Regions from separate parts of the Homo sapiens genome. Here region 2 is linked to region 1. The links come from fine-mapping of genetic effects on gene expression. A gene starts in region 1. The other region holds a variant in brackets. All regions are shown on one strand. Distances are between the middles of the regions. Region 1 holds the start of ARAF (A-Raf proto-oncogene, serine/threonine kinase). Region 2 overlaps SYN1 (synapsin I).

Region 1 (11,925 bases):
GAAATGAAACTAGACTTCATTTTGGATTATTGGGGTGTTTATTCTTGTGTAATCTTATCAGTGTCCTTGAACTTGGATCATTCAATAAGTACTGCCAAGGGACATAGATATTTGCTTTGATACTTTAATAATTTCAGTGGTGATGACAGTGATAACAGGAACAGTTAATAAGTACTACACAGTCACTATGCATCAGGCATTCTGTAAAGTTTGATGCAGATTAGTTCACAGAATCTTACAAGAACCCTATGGTGAAAATACTTTTAGAAAATATTAAAGATGTTAAAGCCTATAATCAGTTGACTTAAAGTTAAAAAAAAATTAAAGATGAAACAGACACCAAGAGAAGAAACAGCTTGTCCAAGATCGCACAGTTATTAATACATAGCAGGACCTGAGGATATTCACACACACTAACTAGATAAGTGGTCAAGTATTAAGGCATTCTGGGTAACTTCAGAATTGATTTTCTCATACCACATCATGGTAGGCAACATTTACATGGGTGACAAAAACTATTGCAAGCTATTTTATACTATATACAGAGAGGACTACATGTTATATTATATCAATAATGATATAGCAAAGACAACATGTGGTTCACTTATCCAGAAAAAATGAAAATTATTTGGAGTATATTTGAAATTTCATTTACAATAATTTTATAAATTGAATCAAAATTTATTAAATATAGATGATGTAAACCAACAGATATTACACTTTTTTTTCTCCTATGATGGGTGGTGAAATCTACTGTGGGTCAGTGTATATGTGCTTGGAATAAATGTGTAAACCTTGAGAAAATTTTTACAAAGTGTATTTCTGATTGAAACCAAAAGAAGACATTTCAGAATTCCTTGTTTGGTGGAAATGCTTTTTGTTTCTTTGTTTAATTAATTACACTTTAAAAATAATTGCTGACCATACTGAATTGCAATCCCTACCAAGGGAGCTACCAGGGAGGGAGAGAGGTGTCTGTCACTGTCCATGGCATCTTAAAGGTTGCCCCCACTGCTCAGTGTTTGTTTATGGGTTCATATTGATCCCTTTGCTTAACTAGTAAATATTTTCCTATTTGAGAAATAATCATACTTAGCACAGAATGTCCTCATCAGAGTAAATCTTTAATAATAAAATTATACGACTGTTATTTGGTTTAATCATGTTTTTCCACTCATCTGATCCTTGGGTTTGGAAGTGGAAAATATATCAGCCTGCACTTTTTTTTTTTTTTTAAAGGAGTCTCGCTGTGTCGCCCAGGCTGGAGTGCAGTGGCGTGATCTTGGCTCACTGCAAACTCTGCCTCCCGGGTTCACACCATTCTCCTGCCTCAGCCTCCTGAGTAGCTGGGACTACAGGTGTCCACCACCATGCCCGGCTAATTTTTTTGTATTTTTAATAGAGAAGGGGTTTCACCTGTGTTAGCCAGGATGGTCTCGATCTCCTGACCTCGTGATCCACCCGCCTCGGCCTCCCAAAGTCAGCCTGCACTTTTGTTTAATTTTATGAAAATATGGAGGTACCCTATATAACATATAATGAACTTAAAAAAAATAATTAAACAGGCCGGGCGTGCTGGCTCACGCCTGTAATCCTAGCACTTTGTGAGGCCAAGGTAGGCATATTGCCTGAGCTCAGGAGTTCGAGACTAGCCTGGGCAACATGGTGAAACCCCGTCTCACTAAAATACAAAATATTAACCGGGCGTGGTGGCGCACGCTGTAGTCCCAGCTACTCGGGAGGCTGAGGCAGGAGAATGCTGTGAACCCGGGAGGCAGAGCTTGCACTGAGCCGAGATCTCGCCACTGTACTCCAGCCTGGGCGACAGAGCGAGACTCTGTTTCCAAAAACAAACAAACAAACAAAACAAAAAAAAAAAAAACACAAAAAAACCCCCAAAACTCTGTCTGTTAAATGGTGTGTTTTTCATAGGGATAGCAAATTGAAATTACTACTCAATGAATTTTGCTAAGAAAGACTTTTTAATAAGAACAGTTAAAAAGTCATGGTTAAATTCACTTACTTGTAAATTTCCTACACCTCTCCCCCCAGGGTTGTATATTAAAAATCCCTTCTAGGAATGTACAGAAGTGGAAACTTCCACACTCTACTTTTATTAAGGATTTCGATGGAACAATTACTGTTGCCTCATCACTGATTTAAAAGCAACATTAAGTTCCTTGTTTGTAGCCGGTCTCAGGCCCACACACCTCCCATTGGCCACCTCCTGTGCATAGCTATTGGTCTGTCAGTGGCTCCGTGGTGAAGTAGAGCCTATCAATGCCCAGGGTATCCCAAGGCCCGCCTTCTACTGCACTGCTATTGGCAGATCTCGCTGCCTGTTGGGGGGGGCCTGTTGCGGAGAGAGGCTCCCTGGGTTGGCAGAGAGGAGCTGGTGGTTGAGGGGCCTGAGTCAAACCTGTGTTCCCGGTCTCAGAGAAATGTGCATGCACGGTCAACTCCCCCGAAATGAACAGCTGAGAGGACGGCGGTGGGAGGGGGTCCCAGAGATGGCGCTCTCCAGGCCGCAGCAGGGGCCGGTGAGGTCGGCGGCTTTGGAAAATGAGAGTCGCACGTTTTAGAGGAGGTCCCCAGGCACGCAGGACTGCTGGGTGGATCTGGGATTCCTTAAGGAGGTGCCCATGGCCCGCACCCTTGTTAAACACTTTTTATCAAACGAAGTCCTGGAGCACTCTCTCCTTTTCCCCTCTGGTTAGGGCAGCCTGAACCTTAATGTCCTCAGCTATAAAAGTAGCATTACAACGGCAGTCGGTGAACACTTCAGATTTTAAAAAATTTTCAGACATATTTCTGAGACTTTAAAATGAACAACAATAAAAACCAACAAGTACTTTGATAACTTTACATTTTTTTCCAGATGGATAATTACAAGGGGGATGTCAGAAAACTATAATCAACTAGTTTGGGTTTTAATTTTTGTCTTAATACATGGTACTTCTAATGGTTTAAATATGGTGGTGATGATAATGACAAAAAGTCAAAAAGGCCAGGCGCTGTGACATGCGTCTGTGGTCCCAGCTTTCTGGGAAGATGGCTTGAGCCCAGGAGGTCGAGGCCGCAGTGAGCTGTGATTGCACCACTGCACTCCAGCCTGGGTGACAGAGCGAGACTCTGTCGCAAAACAAAAGAAAACCAAACCTAAATCACTTTAAAGGACTTCATGCTTTAAAGTGTCAGGTACCTGTAAGGTACTTGGCTGAAGTGCCAGTTGAGATGGGTGTGAAGTGAGTCTATGAGTCCTTGGGGGAGAAAGCATTGCCTTTGAGTGGGCTATGTCCCCTACCCTTCCCCTCCTTCCCCCATCCTGCAAAAGCAATGAGCTTTTGCTGGCATTTTTCTCATCTTTTTGTAAACGTTGAACGATGGAGCCAGAGGTCTGTCTTCAAATACTGCCTAGAAATTAAAGTTTTTAAACAAATTAAATATTTAAGTGAATTGAAATGTAAAATGCACTCCCCTATTCCCCTCCCCAAAGCCCCTCACTGAGCTCCAAACAGGAGTTGTTCCTGACCCCACTGGCACTGAGGTGTTTGCCAGGGCTCCTGCAGTGGGAGATGGAGATTCAGGGTCTAGGGATTTAATTTCAGAAAAAAGAATTTTTTCAAAATAATTTCTCTAACCAATAAGAATTTCTAAGAAACAAATGTTTAGAATTATGTTTGTGGCCTTCTTCTTTTTTTTTTTTTTTGCCATGCAGTTCTTATTCTGGTATATTACACATAAAGCAAAATATATCCATTTTCAGTGTAGAGTTCAATGAGGCTGGGCAAGGTGGCTCATGCCTGTAATCCCAGCACTTTGGGAGGCCGAGGTGGGAGGATCACTTGAGCCCAGGAGTTTAAGAACAGCCTGGGCAACATAGTGAGACTCCATCTACACAGAAAATTTTAAAAATTAGCTGAGTGTGGTGGTGCATGCCTGTAATCCCAGCTACTTGGGAGGCCGAGGTGGGAGAATTACTTAAGCCCAGGAGGTCAAGGCGCAGTGAGCCATGACCGTGCCACTGCACTCCAGTCTGGGTGACAGAGCCAGACTCTGTCTCAAAAATAAAAAAAGATAATAATAAAAATAGAGTTCAATGAGTTCTGACAAATGCATACAGAACATTCCAATCACCTGCAAAAGTTCTTTAATGCACTTCTCAGTCATTCTCCCTCAAAACAACATCTAATGTGATTTCCTTCACTATAGATTAGTTTTGCCTGGTTTAGATTTCATATGGGTGGAATACAGTATTTCTCTTTTGTGTCTGGCTTTTTTCATTTTGCCCCATGTCTACGAGATTCATCTATGCTCTTCCTATATGTCAGTAATTTATTCCCTTTCATTGCTGAGTAGTATTCCATAATCCCATTGTTGTATTTTTTTGTCAGTTCTGTTTCTGGACACCTGGGCTGTTTCCAGTTTTTTGCTATTAAGAAAAAGCTAATCTGAACATTTGCATACAAGTTTTTGTGCAGACATATTGTAATAGTAGCATGTTGTAGCTGGCTCACCAGAGCGGATTTTGTGCATCTCTTTTAAATCTGGTTCAGCGACTGTCATATTGGTAGCCTGAAATAAGCCATGGGGACAGTACAAATTAGAGCTGTTTTCTTCCTGGAGCGTTGGTTGTCAAACATTTACCAGCACACCATTGGACATGTGTTTTCATTTCTCTAGAGTAAATACCTAGGAGTGAGATTGCTGGATTGATTGCATGGCAGGTCTATGTTTAATTTTATATGAAACTGCCAAACTGTTTCTAAAGTGCTTGTGCCACTTTACACTCCCAATAGCAATGTATGAAAGTTCCAATTGCTCTACATTATCATCAATACATAGTATTGTCAGTCTTTTTAATTTTATCCATTGGAGTTGGGCATGGTGGCTCATGCCTGTAATCCTAGAGTGTTGGGAGAACGAGGCCAGGAGCTCGACACCAGCCTGGGCAACATAGTGAGATCCTGTCTCTAAAAAAAAAAAAAAAATTTTTTTAGCCATTAAATGGTGAAGATCCGAATAGAAAAGTGGAGTTGGGGCCAGGTGTGGTGGCTCAAGCCTGTAATCCCAGCACTTTGGGAGGCCGAGGTGGGCAGATCACTTGAGGTCAGGAGTTTCAGAGCAGCCTGGCCAACATAGTGAAATCCCGTCTCTACTAAAAATATAAAAATTAGCCAGGCATGGTCGTGGGCGCCTGTAGTCCCAGCTACTCAGGAGGCTGAGGCAGGAGAATCACTTGAACCCAGGAGGCGGAGGTTGCAGTGAGCCAAGATCTTGCCACTGTACTCCAGCCTGGGTGACAGAGCAAGGCTCTGTCTCAAAAAAAAAAAAAAAAAAAAAAAAGAAAGAAAAGAAAAGAAAAGAAAAGGGGAGTTGGGAAATGGAAATTATATGGGAGGCCAGTAGGCAGAACTTCTGTCTTCCTTCTTATAGACAGAGAAAGCCATGTGATAAATACAGATTGAAATATGTTGAGGCCCCCCCTCACCTATGACCTTCCTCTGATCTTTCCCATTACATTGCCAAAGGATGCTAAATCTCCAAACAGGAGAATGCAGTCACTTGAAACACAACAGGCCATTCATGGTGTTGGGGAAATAATTAAAAAGAGAATCTCGTGCCAACCCAATGAATCCTCTCCACAAAGTAGACAAGAATGAAAAGTTTTTTTTTGTTTTTTGTTTTATTGAGACAGGGTCACTCTGTCACCCAGGCTGGAGTGCAAGTGGCAAGTGGCGTGATCTCAGCTCACTGCAATCTCTGTCTCCTGGGTTCAAGTGATTCTCCTGCCTCAGCATTCTAGGTAGCTGGGATTACAGGCGCGCGCCACCGCGCCCAGCTGACTTTTTTTTTTTGCATTTTTAGTAAAGACGGGGTTTTGCCATGTTGGCCAGGCTGGTCTCGAACTCCTGGCCTCAAGTGATCCGCCCGCCTTGGCCTCCCAAAGTGCTGGGATTACAGGCATCAGTCACCGCACCCGGCAGGAATGGAAAGTTTTATAACTGAATAAGCATTACACCAGACTGTGATGCACATCACAAACAATCTGCTAAAGAGGTTTCAAAGACAGAAAGAAATCTCATCCGTTTATGTAGCAGGCAGATACAGCCCATTACAAACATATTCTCAAACAATAACTTGTGCTCAAGAAACTTGACGGCACCATTTGGTACACATACTTCATCCCAAATTCACCTGGTAATTAGGGTGGCTATCTGTGTTAGTTAATTGCCTTTATCCAAAGGAAAACGAAAACTCATATCTCTATGACAAGCAGGTAATAACTTGAAGCCAGGCACGCAGATCAAATTCCCACGAAGACAGGGAAAGACAGGGGTGCTATTTTCATTGATGTTTACATTTCAAAGAGATGGCTACAAGGCTCTTAAGAAAAACATTCCGGGGATGTAAAACTGGCAAGAGATTTAGCTTTTAAAAGGACTTACATACATCTCAAAGGGACAGAGAAAATTTTACAGTTACAAGTTTTCTAAAGGAAATGCTCTAAGAGAGACGTCTTTCTCTTTTGACACCAGGGAAAATTCGATCTTTAAAAATTTGTGTTTACCCCACAATACCTCCACACATTGACTGGCATCGTGCTCCCTTCCAGGTCCGCACTTCCCTCTTCACCTGGCCACCTGTGACTAGTTTTTCATAGTCCTAATCAACCCCATTCCTAAAGGAAGCCTCCCAGACAGCAGGCCGCCCCTCCTAGGCCCAGTCCCCCAGCCCCCGCCACACCAGAGACCCGCTGTCCTCAAAGGCTATGAACTACAGTCTCCTAGAGCTGGTGAACATCGCCGATCATTGGTTCTGATTCCAACCCATTTCAAAGATGGTAAAAACTGAGACACGGGAAAATCATAAAAGGGTGCTTAGGGCACTGGCCCAAAAAGGGTACTTAAGGATTTCTCCGCCCAGATGCCAAAGCCCTAAGGTCAGCCCCAAATGACCTGTGTTCTGCTTTATACGTCTATGCCACTGTTGGGGTTAAAGCCCTAGGCACGCAGGTCTTGCCTCAACTGCGCCTGCGCGAGTCAGGACGAGCGCTTGCCCCAGATCTTGACGTTTCAGGCGGCCCCTCCTAATCCGGAACACGACTCACATTCCGTTGGTCTTGCCTTGACAGACGTGACCCTGACCCAATAAGGGTGGAAGGCTGAGTCCCGCAGAGCCAATAACGAGAGTCCGAGAGGCGACGGAGGCGGACTCTGTGAGGAAACAAGAAGAGAGGCCCAAGATGGAGACGGCGGCGGCTGTAGCGGCGTGACAGGTGAGGGCGGGCCCGGGAGGGCTCGGTTTCTGGAGCGGCTGCCGGGCACGGGCAGGGAGCCCGGACCGAAAGCTCAGCTCCAGGATGGCTGCGCCTGGGCCCCGGCGTTCCCTGCCCGGAACCGGAGGAGTGGTTTGACCCGGGGCGAGACCATCGTCGACAGCGGGGGTGGGGTGGGTAACAGGAATAGGCGGGCAAGGCTGCGGGTGATGGTTTCGCCCGCTGCTAGTGGTGGTGCGCCTGCGCAGAGCCGGAAGCCCTTTGGTAGGCGGGACCCGACCGAGTGGTGCCGGGATTCCGTCTTAACCCCCGCTAAGGTGTCCAATGACCTTTCCTTACCAACTGCGGGGAGTGTGTGGAAACGCGGTTCACTCCCCGGTTTCCTTATTCTGGATCAGTGTCTGACCGCCCCCGCCGGGAGAATGTCAGGATTCTCGCCTCTGTAACCGCCTTCCATGATCCCTCATTCAGTTTAGACCAGTAATATGCCTGTGACCCCTCACAGGTTGTCAAGGAGAATTTTGGAGCTCCCTCTTTACCTCCATTTTTCTCCCCGCAACACCATACCTTCCTTCTCCTTTTGCTATGACAATGTCTGGTGGTCCACCATTACCTCCCCAGTTCGGCTCAATGTCTGGTCATTTCCATTTCCACCCTTCTCCCCATTACAGTCCCTAGTGACGCCTGTTACATCTCCCTTCCGCATAGTATGTAGTGACCCCCCCCCCCCATGAATTCCTCATCATAGAGGCTTGGGACTTCCATTAGCCACCTAACAACGGTGTCTGTGGTCCTAACATCAACATTACACCCCAGGGCTTAGGGATGTCCACAGTGCCCTTTAAGGACATGTTTGGTGCAACCTCCATCTTCCCCAAACTAAGGGCAGTATCTGATAATCCTCTCTTTCCCATCACCGTGCCTGCGACTCCTCCCTCACCACAGTAACTGGCATTTCCCCCGTTCTCTGTTAAAAAACCAGGACACTTTGGGAGGCTGAGGCGGGTGGATCATCTGAGGTCAGGAGTTCGAGACCAGCCTGGCCAACATGGTGAAACCCCGTCTCTACTAAAAATACAAAAAATTAGCCGGGCGTGGTGGCACACGCCTGTAGTTCCAGCTACTCAGGAGGCTGAGGCGGGAGAATGGCTTCAACTTGGGAGGTGGAGGTTGCAGTGAGCTGAGACCATGCCATTGCACTCCAGCCTGGGCAACAAGAGCGAAACTCTGTCAGAAAAAAAAAAAAACAGAAAAAAAAAAAAAAAAAACCCAGGACATTCTGTTCGTGCTTCTTATGTACCTGACGGCTCAGTGCAGTGTGTACTGACTTCCCCATTGGTCCCCAGCACAGAGTCTTGTGTGCTCCTCTACCCTCCAAGACAGTATGCTCTGTCCCCCTTCCCTGTTCTCTCCCCCGCAACCCTGTGCAGTGAAGCTGAGACCTTGGCACTCAAGAGTGAGACAAGCAACAGGAGGGCCTGAGCAGAGAAGGAACTGGAAGGACTTCAGATGTGAGCAGGATCTCTTGGACTGTCGTGTGAAAATTAGGCTGCAGGGGGCGACAGGAGCCTGGACTTTGAATTTTATTTTGTCCCCTGCCACTTTGCTTCTAGACTATCATTATTGGACCTCTGAATTCTTGTCTGCCTTCTTGTAGGAGCCCCATGGCACCTGCCCAGCCCCACCTCAGCCCATCTTGACAAAATCTAAGGCTCCATGGAGCCACCACGGGGCCCCCCTGCCAATGGGGCCGAGCCATCCCGGGCAGTGGGCACCGTCAAAGTATACCTGCCCAACAAGCAACGCACGGTGGTGAGTCATGGAAGCGAAATGGCAGGGGCTGTGGATGGACCCAGTTGTAACTCTGGGATCAAAAGGGTGACAACGGTTGGGGGAGGCCTTTGCAGAAGGATGGGAACATCAGCTGCGCTTCTGTTGGGCATTGAGGACCCCTACATCTGCACATACACACAGGTGACTGTCCGGGATGGCATGAGTGTCTACGACTCTCTAGACAAGGCCCTGAAGGTGCGGGGTCTAAATCAGGACTGCTGTGTGGTCTACCGACTCATCAAGGGGTGAGTGTGGCAGCCCCACGCCCACCCACTGGGTGTCCCACCTCCCATCCCCTCCTCAGTCATTTGATTCCTTCTGTACTTTATCACAGAGTCTTCCATTAGTCTTCCCTTAGTCTTTAGTCCCCCCTTATCTGCAGGGTACATGTTCCAAGACCCCCAGTGGATGCTTGAAACCATAGATAGTACCGAACCCAATTGCTATCAGTCGGAACATGTTTCTATTCTTGTCTTCTACCCATAAATGTAATGCCTTTTCCGTCTTAACTAAGCACGTATCATGCACTCCGGCCATCACTTTTGCAGTTTGAGGTATGACATCAAAACTAGCATGAATTTATTTTTCCTTCTTCACAATTCCAAAGATGGAAGATTCTTTCTTACAGTAGATCTCAGCAACCTCAGCATATGATTTTCTTTTAAGTCAAGAACTTTTACCTTTTTGCTTAAAGGAAGCACATTACAGCTTCTCTTTGGCATGTCCGAATTGCCACCAACACTACTCTTGTGCTTTTGGGCCATTATTAAGTAAAATGGCGGTCACTTGAAGACAGCCACTATGATATTGAGTCAGTTGTTTGATAACTGAGCAGGCTACTAAGTGATGGGCGGTAGCGTAGACAGTGTGGATCTGCTAGATAAAGAGGTGATTCACATCCTGGGTGGGATGGTGCAGGATTTCATCACGCTACTCAGAATGCACGTAATTTAAAACTTATGAATTGTTTATTTCTGCAATTTTCAATTTAATACTTTCCCACCCGGTTGACCACAGGTAACTGAAACCATGGAGAGTGAAACCACAGATAAGGGAGGACTACTGTAGTTCAAGTAATCTATGAGTTCATCCATCTTTTGTTTTGTTACTTCATTGGTTTATTGGCCTGTAAGGTCAGCAACTCATTCTCCCCTGGCCCCCAAGTCCTCACCCTGGTCCATCACTTCTGCCCAGATTTCATCTATTTTGTCCTTTCACGATGTCATGACTTCATCAGGTCTCTTCTTCCTCATTTTCCCCATTCTCTGTCTGCTGAGTTGGGTCTTGCTGACTTTATTTATTCCTCTCTCGTGGGTTTCCTTAATTTATGATGCAGTTCACACACTGCACTTTATTTGTTGTTTCAGTGCCTCCTCAGCCCCCTTTTCAGGGGCTGGCTTAGCGCTTCTAAGATGTAGTTGTTTAGTTTCATTTGCTTCTCCCCTTCCGTTTCAGAGCATGGACTCTTCACACCGTCATGCCTCTCATTACCCTTGTGGCCCAGGGCCAGTCACTTTATCCCTCTGAGCCTGTTTCCCCATCTGTAAAGTTGGGGCAAGGATAGTGACTAATTTCTAGAGTTGCTGTGATGAGAATTAAACATGCCAGACATGACCCTGTGGGTAGCAGGCTTGGAGGGACTTGTGGGGGTTCCCTGCCTCCCCATGGCCCCTACCCAACCTCCCACTCATTCCTTTCCATGCCCCCTGCAGACGAAAGACGGTCACTGCCTGGGACACAGCCATTGCTCCCCTGGATGGCGAGGAGCTCATTGTCGAGGTCCTTGAAGATGTCCCGCTGACCATGCACAATTTTGTGAGTGCAGGGTGGACGGTGGGGGTGGACCATGGTTGGGGGTGTCCTTGACCAGGTCTCAAACTTCCCTGCTCTGTGGCATCAGGTACGGAAGACCTTCTTCAGCCTGGCGTTCTGTGACTTCTGCCTTAAGTTTCTGTTCCATGGCTTCCGTTGCCAAACCTGTGGCTACAAGTTCCACCAGCATTGTTCCTCCAAGGTCCCCACAGTCTGTGTTGACATGAGTACCAACCGCCAACAGTGAGCCCAGCCTGGGGTGGGTGGGGGGATGGGGAGCACAGAGGCCCAGCCACGAGGCCCTTACAGACAGCTGACCCGTGTCCCCTTGCTTTATACCCTTCATGCCCTCAAGGTTCTACCACAGTGTCCAGGATTTGTCCGGAGGCTCCAGACAGCATGAGGCTCCCTCGAACCGCCCCCTGAATGAGTTGCTAACCCCCCAGGGTCCCAGGTAGGGATGCCTTAGCTGAAGAGCTGCTGGGGGAGAAAAAGATCTTGGGGCTCTTGTAGACCACGAGCCATACTTTATTCATTTGTTTACTTGACAAACATTTATTGAGCACCTACAAGTGTGAGTAAGGGCATGAAACTGGGACCTTGGGCAAGTCACCTCATTTCTCTGGGCCTCAGTTTTCTCATCTGTAAAGAGGGGATGATGATACTTTCTACCATATAAAGGTTCTGGTGAGGCTTAAATGAGTTAAGACATGTTCAGTGCCTAGAACAGGATCTGGTACAGTGTAAATAATCAATTTTTTTGTTATTAATTATAAATATATTTATAAGCATCTAACTACTTTGCTAATTCTAGTATAATCATACTCAAGCCTTTCCATTTTGAAATACGTATTATTTTATCATAAATTACTTCCCTTTTATTGCTTTTTTATGTTAAATATTATATAAAACTATAGCTATATTAAAATATATTATTGCTCTAATATATATTTTATGATGTGCATATTTTATGGTATATTTATGTTATTGTATCATGTTGT
Region 2 (11,925 bases), 48 kb after region 1:
CATTTTGCAGATGAATAAACTGAGGTACAGGGCGTTTAAGTAACTTTTCCTGTGTTAAGCAACTAATAAGTTGTGGAGGTAAGATTCTTATACAGAAATTCTGGCTACAGAGTCCATGCTCTTAATCACATTCTGCTCTACTGTCTCTCAAAGAATGTAGACTAATAATAATGATAAACAAATTGGGTTTCCTTAAAACTAATGATTCAAGCCGGGCATGGTGGTTCATGCCTGTAATCCCAGCACTTTGGGAGGCCGAGGCGGGCAGATTGAGACCATGCTGGCCAACATGGTGAAACCCCTTTTCTACTAAAAATACAAAAAGTAGCTGGGCGTGGTGGCACGCACCTGTAGTCCCAGCTACTCGGGAGGCTGAGTCAGGAGATTCGCTTGAACCCAGGAGGCGGAGGCTGCAGTGAGCTGAGATTGTGCCACTGCACTCCAGCCTGGCGACAGAGCGAGACTCCTCCTCAAAAAAAAAAAAGAAAAACTAATGATTCAATCTTTATCTGTAAGTAAACTTAACTTACAACACTGTTGACGTATATCAGTGATCATAATTTGTAGTACTGGTAAGAATTGCTAATATTAGTAGCAATGTTTATTTAATCAAGTTGATAGTGTTGGGTCAATATTTATATTTAATTGTAATTTTAGTCATAAAATTGGTGATGATCATTTATATGAGTAAACATAATTTGTAATATTGGTAAAAATTGACAAAATTACTTATACAATTTGATTGCATTAGTAACAATTATTTAATTTCTATTTGTAACTAAAATTTGATTCATAACTGTGGTACTCATAATTTATATTAGTAATCAAAATTTTAATATTAGTGATTTTTTTTATAATAGCAGTTAGAATGTTAACCATATTAGTAATTATTTCTATTAGGAACTACAAGATAATTCAAAACACAGGTACTCATGGGTTATATTAGTAATCTTAATTTGTAACACTGGTAATAGTTATATCTGTAAAAATTTTTACACTGTTTGTACTAATGGTTTAATTTTATTTACTTATTTATTTAATGTTTTGAGACAGGGTCTCACTCTGTTGCCCAGGTTGGGATGCGGTGGTGCTATCATGGCTCACTGCAGCCTCAACCTCCAGGGCTCAAGCAATCTTCCCACCTCAGCTTCCCAAGTAGCTGGGACTACAGGTGTATGCCACCATGCCGGGCTGATTTTTAAATTTTTTGTAGAAATGGGGTCTCGCTATGTTGCCCAGGCTGGTCTCAAACTCCTGGGCTCACGAGATCCTCCCACTTTGGGTTTAAATTTTTAAAAAATAATTATAACAATTTACAACATAAGTACTAATCATTTATAGTAATAAACTTAATTTGTAACACTGTAATGCATTGTAATATTAGTTGTTATATTTGATGATATTAGCAATGATAATTCAATTTCTATTATTTAAACGTTCAGCATATTTTATTCTGGCACATTGTAGCCCAATGACCCAACTGTGGTAGTCTCCACTGCATGCCATGTTTATGTAAGTCAAAACAGGTACTTATAATTTATATTAGAGCATAATTTGTAATAGCAATAATCATTTGTAATAACAGCAATAATCTTTGATGCTATTAGTAATGATTATTCAATTTCTACTAGAAACTATAATTTAATTCATGACATAGGTACTCATAATTTACAACAGTAAAAATAATTTATAATATTAGTGATAATTTGTAATATTAGTGATTATATATATATATATATTTTTTTTTTTTTTTTTTGAGATGGAGTTTCGCTCTTGTTGCCCAAGCTGGAGTGTAATAGCGTGATCTTGGCTCACCACAACCTCCGCCTCCCGGGTTCCAGCGATTCCCCTGCCTCAACTTCCCAGGTAGCTGGGATTACAGGCATGCACCACCACGCCGGGCTAATTTTGTATTTTTTTAGTAGAGACAGGGTTTCTCCATGTTGGTCAGGCTGGTCTCAAACTCCCGACCTCAGGTGATCCGCCCACTTCGGCCTCCCGAAGTGTTGGGATTACAGGCATGAGCCACCGCGCCCGGCCAGTGATTATATTTCATAATAGTAACCAAAAGTTCAATTTCTATTAATTAATTAATAGGAGGGAGGCTGAGGTGGGACTCTGTTGCCCAAGCTGGAGTGCAGTGGCGTGATCTCTGGTCACTGCAACCTCCAACTCCCGGGTTCAAGTGATTCTCCTGCCTCAGCCTCCCAAGTAGCTGGGACTACAGGCACGCACCACCATGCCCAGCTAATTTTTGTATTTTTAGTAGAGACGGGGTCTCATTATGTTGACCAGGCTGGTCTTGATCTCCTGACCTCATGATCTGCTCACCTCAGCCTCTCAAAGTGCTGGGATTACAGGCATGAGCCACCGTGCCTTGCCAACAATTTAATTTATAACATTATTATTGATAAATGTTATTGGCAATCCTAATTTGAATATAGGTAAAATTTCTATCAGAAGGAATATTTGATAATGTTAGTAATAATGACTTAATTTCTATATGTAATATATTCTGATTCATTACATTAATTCTGTCAATTCACATTAGAAATAGGTTTTTAATACTGGCAAAAATAGACAACATGAGTAACAGGATCTGATACATATTAGAATGGATCATGATTTAGTTTTCCTTGTAAGCATAAGGAAATTCACGGTAGACCCTATCACAAAGCAACTTCATGACTCCACGTGCACACAGCAGCCACACTCTTGATATCGCACTGCTGATAATATACCAATATTTAATATTATTGCAGTAGTTATGACTCTTCCCTCCTGCCCACTCTATTTTCCCCAAACTCACCATTTCTTTGTGATTGGGGTAGAAGGTCTGATCAATTAGAGGGAATTCTTCTGTCCCCAGTTTCTTATGCAGTCGAACCATCTGGGCAAACTATGAGAACCAGGAGAGCTGGGTCAGTGAGTCCTTCACCACGAATCTGTAAGTTTCTGAACACCCTCACTTCCCCAAATCGCAGACTGGTTTCAAGCTCCCACATACATGCATGAGCTGTTCCCTCTGCCAGTGGCACCCTTCCTGTTACTTACCACCCAGGGCTTGTCACAGAAGTTGTAGACAGAATGCAAGGAGTTAACACTGGGGATTCCAGCATACTGCAGCCCAATGACCAAACTGCGGTAGTCTCCGTTGCGTGCCATGCTGAAGGCGTGCTGGCGGATCAGCACAAAATCCGGCTTCAGAGACCTAGTGTGGCAGGGGTAGGAGTGTTGAGAGTTCCCCCAGAAGCTCCCAATCACTCTCGAAACAAAGACCAAGTTTTTAAATCTCCATAGCTCCCAGAAATTGCAAAGTGGTTTCTCACCTCTGCACACATGTGTGAGCTGTTCCCTCTGCCTAGTGCACCCTTTCTACCCTCTGCCCACCTGGTGATCCCCTTTAAGCCTCTCCTACCTGTTCCCTTCTCAGCAAGGTCAGCTTGCAGCTTACCGACACAGCTCTGACAACTCCCTGGTCACCATCTCTCAGACTGCAAGCTGTCTTCAGTGTTCTGCCCAGAATAAATTCTAACCTTGGGACCTTTACCAAGGCTGTTCCATCTGCCTAAAGCACTTCCCCCCTAGATATCTGCATGGATCACTCCTTCACCTCCATCAGGTCTTTCCTCAAATGTCTCTCCTGCAACCAGGCCACCCTATCCCAACTGCAGACCCCACCATCATCCAACAATTGCTACATCTGCTTTAGTGCTATATATATATTTTTTTCTTTTTTTTTTTTCTGTTGAGACGGACTGTTGCTCTGTTGTCCAGGCGCTGGAGCAATCATGGCTCACTGTAATCTCCGCCTCTCGGGTTCAAGCGATTTCCCTGCCTCAGCCTCCCGAGTAGCTGGGATTACAGGCACCTGCCACCACGCCTGGCTAATTTTTTTATTTTTAGTAGAGACGGGGTTTCACCATGTTGGCCAGGCTGATTTTGAACTCCTGGGCTCAAGCAATCCACCCACCTTGGCCTCCCAAAGTGCTGGGATTATAGGCATGAGCCACCACATCCGGCCACTGTTATGTTTTTTCTTAGCACTTTTACATTTTCTTATTTATTTGTGTATTGTGTGTATCTCACAGTAGAATGTAAGTTTCATAAGGCCCAGGTTCTTTTTCTTTTTTTTTTTTTGGCCTTTCAGCATGTAGAATATCTCCTGGCACACAGTAGGTGTACAATAAATATTTATTGAATATGAAGTCCTGAGAGCAGCATCTGGCATGCAGCAGATGTCTAGCAAATGTTTATTTAATTAATAATTGAAGGCTGGGTGTGGCGGCTCATGCCTGTAATCCCAGCACTTTGAGAGGACAAGGCAGGTAGATTGTTTGAGCCCAGAAGTTTGAGACAAACCTGGGCAACATAGTGAGGACCCCCCCCATCTCTACAAAAAACATAAAAATTAGCTAGGCATGGTGGTGCGCACCTGTAGTCTCAGCTACTTGGGAGGCTGAGGTGGGAGGATCACTTGAGCCTGAGAGGTTGCAGCTGCAGAGAGCCATGATTGTGCCAGTGCACTCCAGCCTGGGAGACAGAGCAAGACCCTGTCTGAAATATATATATATATATATATATTTTTTTTTAAAGTCTGACTTGTGGCATCCTGGGGTCCCTGGCTCTTTTTCTGAAGAAAAGTTGTCTCCCCACATTCCATGCCTAAGTTCTTGCCCACAGAAGGATGGGTGGGGAGGTAGGAACTTTCCCCCAGCTCTAAGGGAGAGTTCTTATGCCTTGCTCATAACACCAAGGTACCCTTCTTATACTCACCGCACGACCTTCACCCC[A/G]TTCCGAAGAACTTCCATATCCACAGAGAATCCACCATTGGCATGGGCCACAAGGTTGAGATCAGAGAATTCGGCCTGGGAAGGAGAAAAAAACTGGTGATTCACCTACATCACACAAAAATGGCCACTCAGTTTGCAGTATGGACAACTGACCCCCAGGTCCAAATGTCCCAACTTACCTGTTCTACTTTAATGTCAATTTCTCCATGGATCTTTTTCCCTTTGAAGTATTTTGCCCTGGAGAGGAAAAACAACACATCTGTCAATGATGAAATCTCAGAAGGGAAGACAAAACACAGGCCCTTGACCCTTTTGCCCCTTCAATGCTACTAAAGAAACCACAAAGTGCCTTATAATTATTGAAATATTTTGAAAAAATCAAGAGTGCTTTGTGAATAATGTCTGTTGTAATCCTCATGGAGTTGCAAAAATATTAAAGGACATTGCAAACTGTAAAATGTGGCCTTACACTGCAGAGAGCAGGTATTTCCCAAAATTTAGTCTGCTCATCACATTGTCATTGTAAATTTTTTAAAAAAACTTCACAAAATTAGCAGCACTATGTAAATTAGAACATACTTTGAAATTGCATGGAGACCGGTAAACAGCAAAGAACCTTAGAAAACACCTATCTGGCCAGGTACGGTGGCTTACGCCTGTAATCTCAGCACTTTGGGAGGCTGGAGGTAGGAGGATTGCTTCAGGCCAAGGGTTGGAGACCACCCTGGACAATATAGAGAGACCCCCATCTCTACAAAAAAAATTGAAAAAAAAAAAAAAAAAACAAAAGCCGAGGGCTGTGGCTCACGTCTATAATCCCACAACTTTGAGAGGCCAAGGCGGGTGGATCACCTGAGGTCAAGAGTTCGAGACCAGCCTGACCAACATGGTGAAACCCCTTCTCTACTAAAATACAAAATTAGCCAGGTGTAGTGGTGCATGCCTGTATTCCCAGCTACTTGGGAGGCTGAGGCAGGAGAATCACTTGGACCCAGGAGGCGGAAGTTGCAGTGAGCCAAAATGGTGCTATTACACTCCAGCCTGGGCAACAAGAGCGAGACTCCATCTCCAAAAAACCCAAAAAACAAAAACTAGCCAGGCATAGTGGTGCATGCCTGTAGTCCCAGCTACTGGGGAGGCTGAGGCAGGAGAATGGCTTGAGCCCAGGAGGTCGAGGCTGTAGTGAGCCGTGATTGCACCACTGCACTCCAGCTTGGGGAACAGAGCAAGACCTAGGCAAAAAAGAGAAAGAAATAAAGAGAAAGGAAGGAAGGAAGGAAGGAAGGAAGGAAGGAAGGAAGGAAGGAAGGAAGGAAGGAAGGAAGGAAGGGGAAGGAAGGAAGGGGAAGGAAGGAAGGAAGGAGAGAAAGAAACTACATTTCTCTGAAGCGTGCCTGTTTTTGTGTATTTTTTAGTGCCTGTGTATATGTCAGTGCCTGTGTCTGGCTGTGTGGCCTGAAGCATCTCTCTGCTCTCTGGCCCTTTCGCAAGGAGGAGCACATTCACCATGTGTGGTTGTGTGCTGTGAGAAACACAATGGCCATAGGTGGGCAGCTGCATCCGATAAGGAGGAGTGGATTGAGTGGTGCAGGCTGGGTGGCTCTAGAGAAGCCAGTGTAGCTGGCAATGATGGGGGGCAGGGAGGAATGCAGCTGAGGAGGAGAGGGAGCAACAGGAGGGAGGGGGAGTGGGAGCAGCAGTAGGAACATCACGAACTGCTATGTCATTGTCCCCGGGCCCGTCCCCAGCTGGGCTTGGTTTCCGGTGGCCTCCTCCCCCAGGCTCAAGATTTCTAGCCAACAGGCTGCTTGCTCCAGGGATGGAAGCTCATCCTCAATCAGGTTTATCATGGAAGGGGGATGAGGGGGAGAGACACTTTCAGGGCTACTGGTCACTGACACACATACAATCAGGGTCTTGGACAGACACACACACACACACACACACACACACACACACACGGCACAAATGGACCCTGGTGACTTGACTGACATATGCAAGAGACCCCAAGTACAGCTACTTCTTTTTCCTTGCTCTCTCTCTGACACACACACACACACACACACACACACACACACCATCGCTGACACTATCCCCTCAGAAGTGTTGAGAGAGAATCTCTCTCAGCCCTGCACATTTTTCATCTATAAACTGATGAGTGGGGATGATGAGGGTGTATCACTGTTTCTAAAACTTTTCTGACCATAAGTGTAGTTGGATACTGTGGTGGTCTGCTCAGGCCTCCTCTTCAGGGACAATGTACCTTGAATGGCAGCTACTGACAGCTCATGGCTGTGTCCCCACTGGGAATTGTCTTGTCACAGGGAACTGCCTTGTCCAAGGTTACACCTACTTCATGAGGGCATCCCCATGGTCTGGTCTATGAAGGGAAAGAAAGGCCAGCCTCCTTGCCTCAATCTGGGCTGACTCTGAAGGACCCTCCCAGCCCCAGGGCTCCCCCTAAGAGCAGCGGAGGCCCCTAAGGCAACTACATCTTGAGCCAGCCTCTTCCTCTGCTCAACCCAACCCTCCTCACAAGTGTTGATCCCAATGGCACACTCCAGTAAGCCTCCTGCATGCAAATCTCCACCTCAAAGTCTTTTTCCAGGGAACCCAACCTAAAACAGTGGGCCATGGAAGTCAAACTACAAGGGTGGTCTAATGCAATTCTGGAGCTGGGTTACCCAGCAGCCAGATGGCAGTGAGGACCCATCAGTAGTGGGAGGTGGGGCATAGATAGCCTCCGATATGCTGTAGCAACGCAAAGTGCTCTGCAGCAGGTCCGGGCTGTGGTGCAAGCAGGATGTGACTTAGGCCATATGATCCAGCAGATCCTATGACACTGGAGGTGTCAGTAGTAGGAAAAGATGCTGTGTGGAATTTCTTCTCCCAGGTGGGAGAATACAGCGCAGGCCCCCAGGGTTTTGGAGTAGCGGTGACTTTTCCTGATGGTGGGCTGTAATGGGATTCTGGTGGAAGGGAATGTACTGGATGGTGAAATATCCCTGGAACTTGAGTGATGTCAGGGAAATGGTAACCAGACTTGGGTGACTATTCCCTAAACGCCATTGAGTAGCTGAAGAAAGACCTGACATGCTCAGGGTGAATTCAAGGCAAAATGTGAAAGCCAGAGGATCTCCCTGACTGCATTTAAGGAAACCCTCATCTCCTGCAGTCAGAGGGCAGACAGAAGGGAGGGCCAGGCTCAGAATTTAATTCTACGTGGTGGCGGAGCTTCGGAGAAAGTTGACTTCTCAGGCCCAGCACATCTCCTGGGCCATGCTCATGTCCCTAATAGGACAGGAGTAGGACTCTGAGATGGGGATATCTGGGCAGATGCAGTTAAACACCTTGAACTTACAGACTCACCTGCATCCACTGGGCCTGCTGAAGTAGACTACTCCCCTGAGTTAGAATATAGACCTTCTGCTTGAAGATAATGCAGAGGCCTCGGATGATGCAGGTGCTTTGTAAGACAATGCCTGCCCCCCTCAGAGTCTACCCCCCACCTACCCTCCTGGAAACCAGACCAAAAATTAGGGTGAAATCCTAGTGAAACCTGACTGGACAGGTTCTAGGCTTGCAAAGGGAGAGAAATGATCTGTAGAAGAACCTAAAGAATCTGGCTAGTACGTATTGGCAGGAGCTGGGAAGGTATGCATGAGACTGGATCCTGAGGACAATGGGCGAAGGAGGTAGAACAGGAAGTTGGTGTGCTCTCCCAGGATACGGAACTTAAAACCCTGGCGAGGACTCTAGGAAGTGTTACTAACACACTGGTATTTGGAAACCTGGAGTAAACAATGGCCCACACTAAGTGAAGCAGAACTTCCATGGCAGATTGCACAGGGAAGGATTAAAGGGCTCAAAGAAGCAGACATGTTGGAGTAGATATACTACTGAAGTCTGGAAAACCCACCAGCTGATTAAGGCCTGGAGGATACACTCAACTTATGAAATTAATAAGAAACATGCTGGTGAGGGTGGTACCAGTCACGCTGAGAAGCACAGTAGTGGTAAGGTGATAAATGAGTCCTGGCCCAGGTCCTGCTTACAGTGGGTCTGGTGGGTCTAGAGACCCACCCAGTGGTCACTTCCTCAGTTCACAAATGCGTAATTGCAATGGCATACTTTGTAGTTGTCAGAACCCCTACATGGGCTCCTCAGCCTGTGGGATAAGAGCTGTTTCAGTAGGGAAGTCCAAATAGAAGCTTCTAAAATGGCGCACACCCCCATGCCCTGAACAAAACAATAAACCACAAACAATATTGTGTGCATCCTATGGGTGATGATGGAAATCAATGCCACATTGAAAGATCTAAAGGATGCAGGGGTGTTGGTCTCATCTTATCTCCATCGAGTTGAGCAGTCTGGCCCCTGGAGAGGTCAGATGGGTCCTGGAGAATGCTTGCAGATTACTGCAAGCACAATCAAGTAGTACCCTTAGTTATACCTGCCATACTGGACACGCTGTCATTGCCAGAGCAGATTAATAAGACCTCAGGTACAGCAGGTGGCTGCTGACTTGGCAAATGCATTCTTTTTTATTCTGATTAGAAAAAAGGATCAGAAACAGTTTACACTCACATGAGACTGATGATAATATTCATAGATGGTCTTGCTGTAGGGCTATGCTATCTCTCTCACCTGGTGTCATAATATAGTCCAGAGAAACCTGGACTATCTGGACATCCCATGGAATAGCACACTGGACCACCACATGGATTACATCATACTGATTGTGCAAGATGAGCAAGAGAGGGTGAGCATATTGCCCTGGTAAGACACATCCACTACAGAGGGTGGAGGATAAACTCCACAAAGACTCAGGGGACCGATGCATTAGTAAAATTTTTAGGAATCCAGTGGTCCAGGGCAGTAAACCAGGACAGCCCCTCCAAAGAATAGAGCAAAGCATTGAATCACGCACCTTCCACCATGAAGAGGAAAGCACAATACCTAGGAGGCCTCTTCCCATTCTGGAGGCAGCATGTCCCCCACACACAAATAATGCTCTGACCCATATTCCAGGCGACATGTAAAGCTACCAGCTTTGTGTGAGGGCCAGAGCAGAAAAGGGCTCTGCAGCAGGTCCAGGCTGTGGTACAAGCAGTCCTGCCATTTAGGCCAGATGATCTGGCAGATCTTATGATACTGGAGGTGTCAGTAGTGGGGAAAGATGCAGTGAGGAGCTTATGGGAAGCCTGAGTGGGAGGCCCTTGGGGTTCTGGAGCAAAGCCATGCCATCTGCAGCAGAGAATTTTACGCCTTTTGAGAAAGACACCCCATTGAGGTGCTGGGCCCTGATAGAGACAGAATGCTTGACCAGGCACCAAATGATTGTGCATCCAGAAGTTCCCATTATAAGCTGGGTCCTGCTGGGCCCGCCAAATAATAAAGTCAGGTGGGCCCAGCAGTCAGGATTGAGCCCAAGCAGAACCAAGCAAGGTGCATGAGCAGGTAAGTAACCCTGATCCCCATGTCTTCCACACTGTTGTGCTAGTGCCTGTCTCACTAAGGGGACTCCTTAAAACTAGCTGATGAAAGAGGGAAAGGTCTAAGCTTGGTTCACAAATTGGTTGTCTTAGTATGTGGGTGGAAGCCAAAAATGGGCAGTGGTTGCACTATAACCCAACTGGAATGGCCTTGAAAGACAGTGGCAGAGCTCCCAGTGGGCAGAGCTTCAGGCTGTGCACCTGCTCATCTCCTTTGTGCAGAAAGAGAAGTGCCTCAAGATTAGAATACATATATCCACTTATGGGCAGTGGTAAATGGTTTGGCTGGTTGGTCAGGGGCCTGGAAATAAAAAGACTGGAAGATCCAGACAAAGAGGTCTGGGATACAGAAATGTGGGCAGACACCTAGGAGTGGGCAAGAAATGAGGAGTGAGACTGGGCGCGGTGGCTCACGCCTGTAATCCCAGCACTTTGGGAGGCCGAGGTGGGCGGATTACCTGAGGTCAGGAGTTCAAGACCAGCTTAGCCAATGTGGTGAAACCCCATCTCTACTAAAAATACAAAAATTAGCCGGGCGTGGTGGCGCACGCCTGTAATCCCAGCTACTCGGGAGGCTGAGGCAGGGGAATTGCTTCAACCTGGGAGGTGGAGGTTGCACTGAGCCAAGATCGTGCCACAGCACCAGCCTGGGCAATAGAGCGAGACTCCGTCTCCAAAAAAAAAAAAAAAAAAAAAAAAAGGGAGGAGCGAGGATCTTTGGATCGTGTGTTAACACCCACCAGACAGCATCTGCCATGGCGCCATGGAAGTGACACTAGGCAACCAGGTAGACAGCATGAGTCAGCCCGATGATGTCAGCCAGGCTCTAATCAGCCACCCCAGTGTTAGCAGATGGGCACATGAATAAGTGGCAATAGCAGCAGAGAGAGAAGCTATGTGTGGGGGCAGCAGTGTTACTGCTGAATGTCCAATCTGCCAGCAACAGAGACTAACATTGAATCCCTGACACGCCACCATCCCTCCAGAAGGCCAACCAACCACTTTGTGGCAAGCTGATTAGATTGGGCCCCTTCCATCCTGCAAAGAACAGTAATCGATTTTGACTGGAATATTCCATATTTGAGTTTGCCTTTTCTTACTGCAGGACCTCAGCCAGCTCACTGTCTAAGGGCTTACATAACGTTTGATCCACCAGCACGAGACCCTGCATAACACTGCGTCAAACCAAAGGACACACTTTATAGCAAAGTAAAGGAATGCAAAGCAAAGGAGGTGCAAAAGTGGGCCCATGACCATGGAATTAACTGATGGTATTACACACCACGCCACCCGGGAGCTGCTGGCCTGATGGAATGATGGAACAATTTGGTGCAGCCACAGCTAAGATCCCAGGTTGAAGGTGAGATCATGCAAGAATGGGCACCATCCTCCAAAACAGTGTCAACCCTAAATCAATGGCCATTGTAGGTGCTGTGTTCCTAACAGGTAGAATACACCGGTTTGGGGACACAGAGGTTAGGAAGGAGTGGCCCAGCTTACCAGCAATCCCAGTGATCCACTTTTGAAATTGTGCTTCCTGTTCCCTCAGGGCTCTGCAAGGTTAGAGGTCCTGGTTCTCCAAGGGGGAACACTGCTACCAGGGGACACAGCAAGAATCCCATTAAACTGTAAGCTAT

The links. PIP is the estimated chance that this variant, and not a neighbour inherited with it, causes the effect.
Region 2: its variant is the best candidate, but not a certain one, in a credible set for the expression of ARAF in whole blood (TOPMed, PIP 0.71).

The regions. Positions count from the first base shown.
Region 1 is chrX:47,553,973-47,565,897 of GRCh38, forward strand. ARAF (A-Raf proto-oncogene, serine/threonine kinase) reads left to right here and starts at 7,233. Exons shown (of 16, transcript NM_001654.5): 1 at 7,233-7,279; 2 at 8,937-9,091; 3 at 9,254-9,357; 4 at 10,825-10,927; 5 at 11,013-11,167; 6 at 11,280-11,378. The coding sequence starts at 8,996. It overlaps LOC124905184 (a long non-coding RNA gene), which reads right to left and starts at 7,467. Exons shown (of 2, transcript XR_007068225.1): 1 at 7,112-7,467; 2 at 1,964-4,575. RefSeq lists enhancers at 2,074-2,575, 9,858-10,152 and a silencer at 7,300-7,599.
Region 2 is chrX:47,602,169-47,614,093 of GRCh38, forward strand. It overlaps SYN1 (synapsin I), which reads right to left. Exons shown (of 13, transcript NM_006950.3): 2 at 4,973-5,030; 3 at 4,777-4,868; 4 at 3,055-3,211; 5 at 2,810-2,899. Among named protein-coding and RNA genes, the nearest start is that of SYN1, 12 kb to the right of the region's middle. The variant A/G (reference allele first, on the strand shown) is at 4,794.